2 linked regions of the Homo sapiens genome follow. The protein of the gene in region 2 purifies or fractionates together with the protein of the main gene of each other region. This does not show direct contact. Each region holds a gene or a part of one and is shown on either strand. Other genes may lie near its edges.

The links.
Region 1: the proteins of FGD3 (region 2) and ARHGAP22 purify together in Homo sapiens (affinity purification with western blotting; one study listed by BioGRID and IntAct). This does not show direct contact.

The regions. Positions count from the first base shown.
Region 1 is NC_000010.11:48,451,425-48,455,073, reverse strand, and holds part of ARHGAP22 (rho GTPase-activating protein 22), read left to right. Parts: coding exon 1-72; intron 73-912; coding exon 913-986; intron 987-1,648; coding exon 1,649-1,770; intron 1,771-3,466; coding exon of another isoform or gene 3,467-3,649.
Region 2 is NC_000009.12:93,013,495-93,017,143, forward strand, and holds part of FGD3 (FYVE, RhoGEF and PH domain-containing protein 3), read left to right. Parts: exon of another isoform or gene 1-357; coding exon 358-504; exon of another isoform or gene 505-1,000; intron 1,001-1,432; exon of another isoform or gene 1,433-1,450; intron 1,451-2,242; coding exon 2,243-2,335; intron 2,336-3,649. UniProt on the Homo sapiens protein: Promotes the formation of filopodia. May activate CDC42, a member of the Ras-like family of Rho- and Rac proteins, by exchanging bound GDP for free GTP. Plays a role in regulating the actin cytoskeleton and cell shape.

The DNA.
Region 1 (3,649 bases), on a different chromosome or scaffold from region 2:
CCCGTGGTCCCCTTCGCCAGGTACGAGGACTTCCTCAGCTGCGCCCAGCTGCTCACCAAGGACGAGGGGGAGGTCAGTGGCTCCTGGGGATAGCTCCTGGGAGATGGGCTGGCTGGGTGGCAGCCTGTAGACTCAGGACACAGACTCTGACTTTTCATGAATTTTCATGGCACATGGATCCTGTGGAGGCCTGCTGTGTTGGGGGTGTGGTGGGGGCCTGGAGCATCCTGCTTGGGTGGGGGAGGGGCCAGGGCATCCTGCTCAGGTCGGGGAGGGCTGGGGAATCCTGCTGTCTGGAGCCATACCTGTCTGCGGCCTTGGTCCCTGGGAGGGGTGGGTCCGGTGTGCCCAGCTCTGGCTGTCACACCAGTAGGTGCTCACACTCCCCACACCCGACTCAGGCCACTCAGGCCCGTCACAGGCTCAGAAACCAGGACATCTTTTATTTATATCTTGCTTCCTTCCCAAAAGAATTTGAGCTGGCTCCCAGGACAGATGAGCCAGCCCTCCCGTCCCCACCCGTGCAGGTGCTGGTCTGCAGCCCCAGGTGGCTCAGGGCCAGGGAAGGACTGTTTGCCTTCCCTGCGGCCATGTGGGAGATGAGGGCTCACTATCTGGCAAATATTTGTGTCTTGATAAGTGAGCTGAGTGCTGGCCCTGACATTCCTCCACGGGCCCTGTAGAGGCTCACCCCTCACACCAGCTCCTTGGAAGCAAGTTAGCTTCCCAGGAGGTCACAGCTGGGCCCTGGCCACTCCTTGAGGGGAGGTGGAGGTGGTGGAGCCCTCTGGTCTGTTGGGGCTGGGCTGCCGTAGCCCCCACCTCCCTTCTCTTTGCCCACCCCTCCTCGCAGTCAGAGAACAGTCAGGGCCCTCATTGCCGGTGTTTGAAATTCTGTTCTTCATTCCTAAGGGCACTCTGGAGTTGGCTAAACAAGTGAGCAACCTTCCTCAGGCAAATTACAACCTGCTCAGATACATCTGCAAGTAAGCGGCTTGGCAGGAGGGAACCACACTTTCCTGCACTGGCTCCACGCTCCCCCAACCCCACAGCGAGACACGCAACTCTTCCTTGTCAGAGGGGGGCCCGGGTCATTCCCCACCCTGCACAGCCTCAACCCAGCGTGGACGAAGCAGGGAGTGGAAAAGCACAGACCCTGAGTTCACGAAGCTTACAGTCCCATGGGAGCAGCTGGTTTTAAACAGACCTGGGTAGATAATTCCAGAAGGGACATACCCTCTGTCCCTCCTGGGTGCCTCTTGCCATCCTGTCCCCCCGGCATCTGCCCCTTGACCCCAACCCTTCATGTATCCCCATCCTAGACACTGAGAAGGGGAATGCAGGGGCGGCGCTGACTGGGGTCTGGGACTTCCCAGAATTTGTGCCCACTACAATTTGCAGAGTCTTGTCCTCCTTTCACACAAATAGCGGTGGGCCCTTGTCCCAGTGACTTTTACTTCTGATGGCCCTCTTGGGCCCCAGGGGAAGCCTTCCCTCATCGAGCCTGGCAGAGGCAGGCTACACCCAGTGGGCAAAAGCCCACAGGCAGCAGGGCTCAGCAGGGGTGTGGCGGTGCGTCCAGGCCGCACACAGGAGACTGGGCATCACAACTTGCTTCTTTGATGACTGCTGCTTCCTTACTTTGCAGGTTTCTGGATGAAGTTCAGGCATACTCAAATGTCAACAAGATGAGTGTCCAGAATCTGGCAACCGTTTTTGGACCTAACATTCTGCGGCCACAGGTAGAGGACCCAGTAACCATCATGGAAGGTAAGTGGGAGGTGTACCTGGTGGCCCTGGGTGCTGCCGGGGTCTGGGCTCATCTTGGTCCACGGCAAGTCCTTGGAACCATCCCAGCCCAGGGCCAGGCCAGCAGGAGGGGTGGCTCAGGTGGCACATCTCCATCTCTGGGGACTTGGCAGGAACTTCTGCAGACCTCACCCCCGACCCCCATGAGGTTCAGCTATAAGATAAAAAAGGAACTTTGCCCTGCGATGGGCAGCAGCAGGTCACTGGGTGCAATTAGAATAGCCAGGGGTTTCTGTGGATGGAAGAGGCTGGAGGGATGGGAGAGGTCAGCACTTTTGCCCTTGAACACAGACATGTTTGCTTTTCTTTTACAATTAAGCAATTGTCATAGGTTCCTGGATGTCAGCTTTGCAAACCCTGGAGAATTTCTCTATGATAAATAACAATAAGTGATTAAAAATAGCAGCAACAGCAGCCGCTTTCAGTAAGCTTCTACCAAGTGCTTTGTTTGTATCATCTCATTTCAGGCTTTACAACCAGCCTGTGCTGTGGTAATCGCCCCCACTTTACAGATGAGGAAACTGAGGCCAAGAGAGGCGAGGGGACTCACCAGAGGCCAGTCAGCCAGACTTAGCAAAGGGCACAGGTGTAGGCTGCCATAGAAAAGACAGCCCACCTCATAGGGCCCATGGAACACTGTCCCCAGTGGAGTATGCATGAGAGACGTGCTGCTCAGACAGGAAGCCCACAGCTGAGGCTGTTCTTGCCCTTATCCCATGTTGAGGGACGTGGCGGAGTGCTTTTGCTCAAGTCCGCACTTTGGTCAGCCCTGGCTGGGTCTCCCACCCCAGGGCCCCTTGAGGCCAGGAAAACACAAGCTCCTACCTGCCTGGTGGTACAGATGCTTGAGGGAGGAGGCCTGCCCTGCCTGCTTCATGGAGTTCCTGCTTCACCTAGGTTCTTGGCCTCAGAATTCCTTCCTTGACTTCTTCCAGGATTCCTAGTCAACTTCAGTGGGAGAGTCCACCCTGGCACTCAGCCCTCCCTCCTACCGGGGGACCTCCTAGCGTCGGGCCTTTGTGGTGAGGGTGGCAGGAGGGAATGAGGCAGCTGGATAGATGCCCTGGTCCTTCCTGCACTGCCCACCTCCGCTGCAGGCCCCCACCCCACCACCGTAGGAACTGAGTCCCCAGGACTGGGGGCTGCATCTCAGGGGCCTTGGCCTAGACACGGGGGATTGTGTGTGTGCGAGATTATATGTATGTGGGATTCTGGGGGGTGAGCAGGGTGCACTATGTGTGCAGTTGTGTATGGGGGAATTTGGGGAGGCTGCGGAGGGTGCATTGTGTGTGCAATTGTGTGTGGCGGATTTTGGGCAGTGGGTGGGGTTCATTGTGCGATTCTGTATGGGGGGATTTGGGGAGGCTGGGTAGGGGATTTGTGTGTTCACTTGTGTGTGTGTAGGGGCTTTGGGGAAACTGGGTAGAGTGCATTGTGTGTGTAATTTTATGTGTGTGGGATTTTCGGGAGTGGGCATTGTATGTGCGATTGTGTGTTGGGGGATTTGGGGAGGCTGGGTGGGTGCATTGTCCAGTTGTGTGTGTGTGTGGGACTTTGGGGGTGGATGGGGTGCATTGTACGTGTGATTGTGGGGGGTATTTTAGGGGGTGGGCGGGGTGCATTGTGTGTGCAATTGTATGTGTGTGCCCCCACACAGGAAAGATGGCTCTATTCCCTGTCCCAGAGCCCTATGCTCCCAGAGTGTGGACATTCAGGCATGGCAGTTGTCAGCAGCACAGAGGGGTGACGTGGGGCAGCCGAGAGAGTTCTGGCATCTCAGGTCCCAGGTTCCAGTTCCAACCTGCCACCTGCTCACCGTGCAGCCTTGGTGCCTGCTTCC
Region 2 (3,649 bases):
TCTCAGATACTCAACTGACCGCTCTGTGCCTCAGTTTCCTTGTCTGTAAAATGAAGATAACAATGGCACTCACCTCACTAGGTGAGTTAAAACATGTATCATGTAGAACAGCACATGGCTCACAGCAATGGTTAGCTCTGTTCCTGTTTATCGTTGTTTTTATGCTCTGCATGGTGAACTCCTATTCATCCTTCAATACCCAACTCAAACATCACTCTGTTTTCCCTCCCACCCTTGTCAGTAGCTCATTGCCCTCTCTGGATTCTGGGCCACGGTTGCAGGGAAGGACTCCGTGCATCTCTAGGTCACCAGCCACTCTCACAGACCTTTGGTGCCTGAGTCCCATGTCTCTTGCAGGAGAAAATGCACAAGCTCTTGGAGGTGTACGAGCAGCTGGGTGGGGAAGAAGACATTGTCAACCCGGCCAATGAACTGATCAAGGAGGGCCAAATCCAGAAACTGTCAGCCAAGAACGGCACCCCCCAGGACCGCCACCTCTTCCTGGTGAGCCTGGCCCCTGCCAGCCCAGCCGCAGAGCCTCCCTTGCCATTTGCCTCAAGCCCAGGGCAGTGCCAGGAGGGCTCTGGCTGCCCAAGGACATGGCTCTTCTGTGGCCTCTCCTACTGGGACTGTGGCTCCCTCTGAGACCCTCAGCATCCCTCCCCCAGCCATAGGGAGCCTCCCTCCTCCACATCCAGACACCAAACTTTTGCCAGTGGCTCTTCCCCATTTGCTGCAAATATCTCATTTTTTAATCCCTCGTAGCCCATACCTCTTTCGTCCCCAGAACTGAGCAGACTTCAGCTTGTAGCAACCAGGACAGCACAGAGAACTGTAGCAGTGAATCACAGTTTCAACTATTCCTGAGCCAAACCCTGGCCGGGAGGGAGGGGGAAGGTGGGATGGAAGTGTAATTCGAGACCCCCCCGGGTGCCATGGCGCGGTAGAAACAGATGTGGTTCTTCTTTCCTCCTCCATTTTCCTCTAGCTTCTGATTCTCCTTGAATAAACAATTATTTCTTTGAAAGGTTTTTTTTTAAGTTTTTAAAAATTACGTTAACTAAAACTCATTTTTGCTTTACAGTTCTGAGTTTTGACTAATACAGTTGTGACCACAATCAAGTTACAGAACAAGTTTTTTTTGTTTGTTTTTGTTTTTGTTTTTAAGACAGAGTCTCGCTCTGTCACCCAGGCTGGAGTACAGTGGCTCAATCTCGGCTCACTGTAACCTCCACCTCCCAGGTTCAAGCAATTGTCCTGCCTCAGCCTCCTGAGTAGCTGGGATTACAGGCGTGCGCCACCACGCCCGGCTAATTTTTGTATTTTTAGTAGAGATGGGGTTTCACCATGTTTATCAGTCTGGTCTCGAGCTCCTGACCTCAGGTGATCCACCCACCCAAAGTGCTGGGATTACAGGCGTGAGCCACCTCACCTGGCCAAGTTACAATTTGATCACTGCCCCCGCCCACCCCCCCAGTTCCCTTGTCCCACCCCTTTGTGAGCAAGCGCTCGCCTGCCCTGGCAACCATGGATCTCTTCTCTGTTTCTAGAATTTTGCCTTTCCCAAATGTCACATCAATGCCATGAGATGAGTCTGGCTCCTTTAGCTCACCATGTGGGTTTGAGAGATTCATCCATGTTGGTGAATGTATCAGTAGCTCATTCAAAAGATTTGGTTTGGCTGGACGTGGTGGCTCATACCTGTAATCCCAGCACTTTGGGAGGCTGAGGTGGGCGGATCACCTGAGGTCAGGACTTTGAGACCAGCCTGGCCAACATGGCGAAACCCCATCTCTACTAAAAATGCAAAAATTAGCTGGGCGTGGTAGCACCCGCCTGTAATTCCAGCTACTCGGGAGGCTGAGGCAGGAGAAGCTCTTAAACACGGGAGACGGAGTTTGCAGTGAGCCAAGATTGCGCCATTGCACTTCAGACTGGGCAACGAGAGCAAGACTCCATCTCAAAAAAATAAAAAAAGGTTTTTTTTTAAATTATACAATTAGCTCATGTTCATGGTTTAAAAATTTAAAAATAGAAATGAACAAAAATAAAGCTAGCGACTAGAGTCTCCTCACTCAAAGATGTAACCATAGTTAAAATTACTGCACATATCTTTTAAAAATATTTTTCACTTTATAACATTAAAAAAAAATGAAAAGGATCCCATGTGAGAAGCTCACTGGGGCCCCTGGGGGGACCTGCGGGCAGCTCTCGTTCCTCACCTGTGCCATCCCTCTTGCAGTTCAACAGCATGATCCTTTACTGTGTGCCCAAGCTGCGGCTCATGGGCCAGAAGTTCAGCGTCCGGGAGAAGATGGACATCTCAGGCCTCCAGGTGGGTGAGCTCCTCCATCTCAAACCTGTCCCCCTGGAAGGGGCACTGAGCAGGACTGGGGACACCAGGCTCTGGCCGCTGAGGCACTCACCTCTGTGCAGCCTGGCACCCCTACCTGCTTTTCCAAGCCATAGACCCTATCTGTGACCAAGGCATTGTCTCAGTCCTGGTGCCCCAGGCTGGAAGGGCAGGATTCCACCCTTCTCTGCTTGGCCCACCTGCCACGTTGCTGCCAACTCCCCTTTCTGCAGAGCCTTGGAGGATGCAGGGGGCAGTAGGGATGGCACCAGGACCTGGACTGAATCCTGTCACCTGTGAGACTGGGACTCGGGGCCCTATTTACAAACCCAAACATGAAGCCCAGGGTTGCAGGGAGCAATCCTGGCTGGGGCGGGGGCCGGCTTCCCTTGTCTGGTTCCTGGGTCCTGAGCTCTTTCCTGTCCTCCTGCACCGGAGCCGGGGGGAGGGTTCCAGGCAGATCTGTAGCATGGTCCAGAATGACCTTCTTTTTTTTTTTTTTTTTTTTTTGAGACGGAGTCTCGCTGTCACCCAGGCTGGAGTGCAATGGCATGATCGTGGCTCACTGCAACCTCCACCTCCTGGGTTCAAGGGATTCTCCTGCCTCACCCTCCTGTGTAGCTGCGATTACAGGTGTGTGCCACCACACCCAGCTAATTTTTGTATTTTTAGTAGAGAAGGGGTTTTGCCATGTTTGCCAGGCTGGTCTCGAACTCCTGACTTCGTGATCCACCCGCCTTGGCCTCCCAAAGTGCTGGGATTACAGGCATGAGCCACCGCACCCAGCCTAGTCAGTCATTATTTTTAATGGTATTTCTTAACCTGGAGTGCAATGGTGTGATCTCGGCTCACTGCGACCTCCACCTCCTAGGTTCAAGGGATTCTCCTGCTTCACCCTCCAGAATAGCTGTGATTACAGGTGCGCGCCACCACGCCCAGCTAATTTTTGTATTTTTAGTAGAGACGGGGTTTCACCATGTGGTCAGGCTGGTCTCAAACTCCTGACCTCGTGATCCACCTGCCTCGGCCTCCCAAAGTGCTGGGATTACAGGCATCAGCCACCGTGCCCAGCCATGACCGATTTTTTGTAGAGAAACACTAGAAAAGTGGTTTCTTCTAACTACTATAAAAAGCTGGGCACGTAGTTTCGCTGGCTCACGCCTACAATCCTAGTACTTTGGGAGGCTGAGGTAGGAGGATCACTTGAACCCAGGAGTTCGGGACCAGCCTGGGCAATGTAGTGAAACCGTGTCTCTATAAAAAATAAAAAATTAGCCAGGCATGGTGGCGCACATC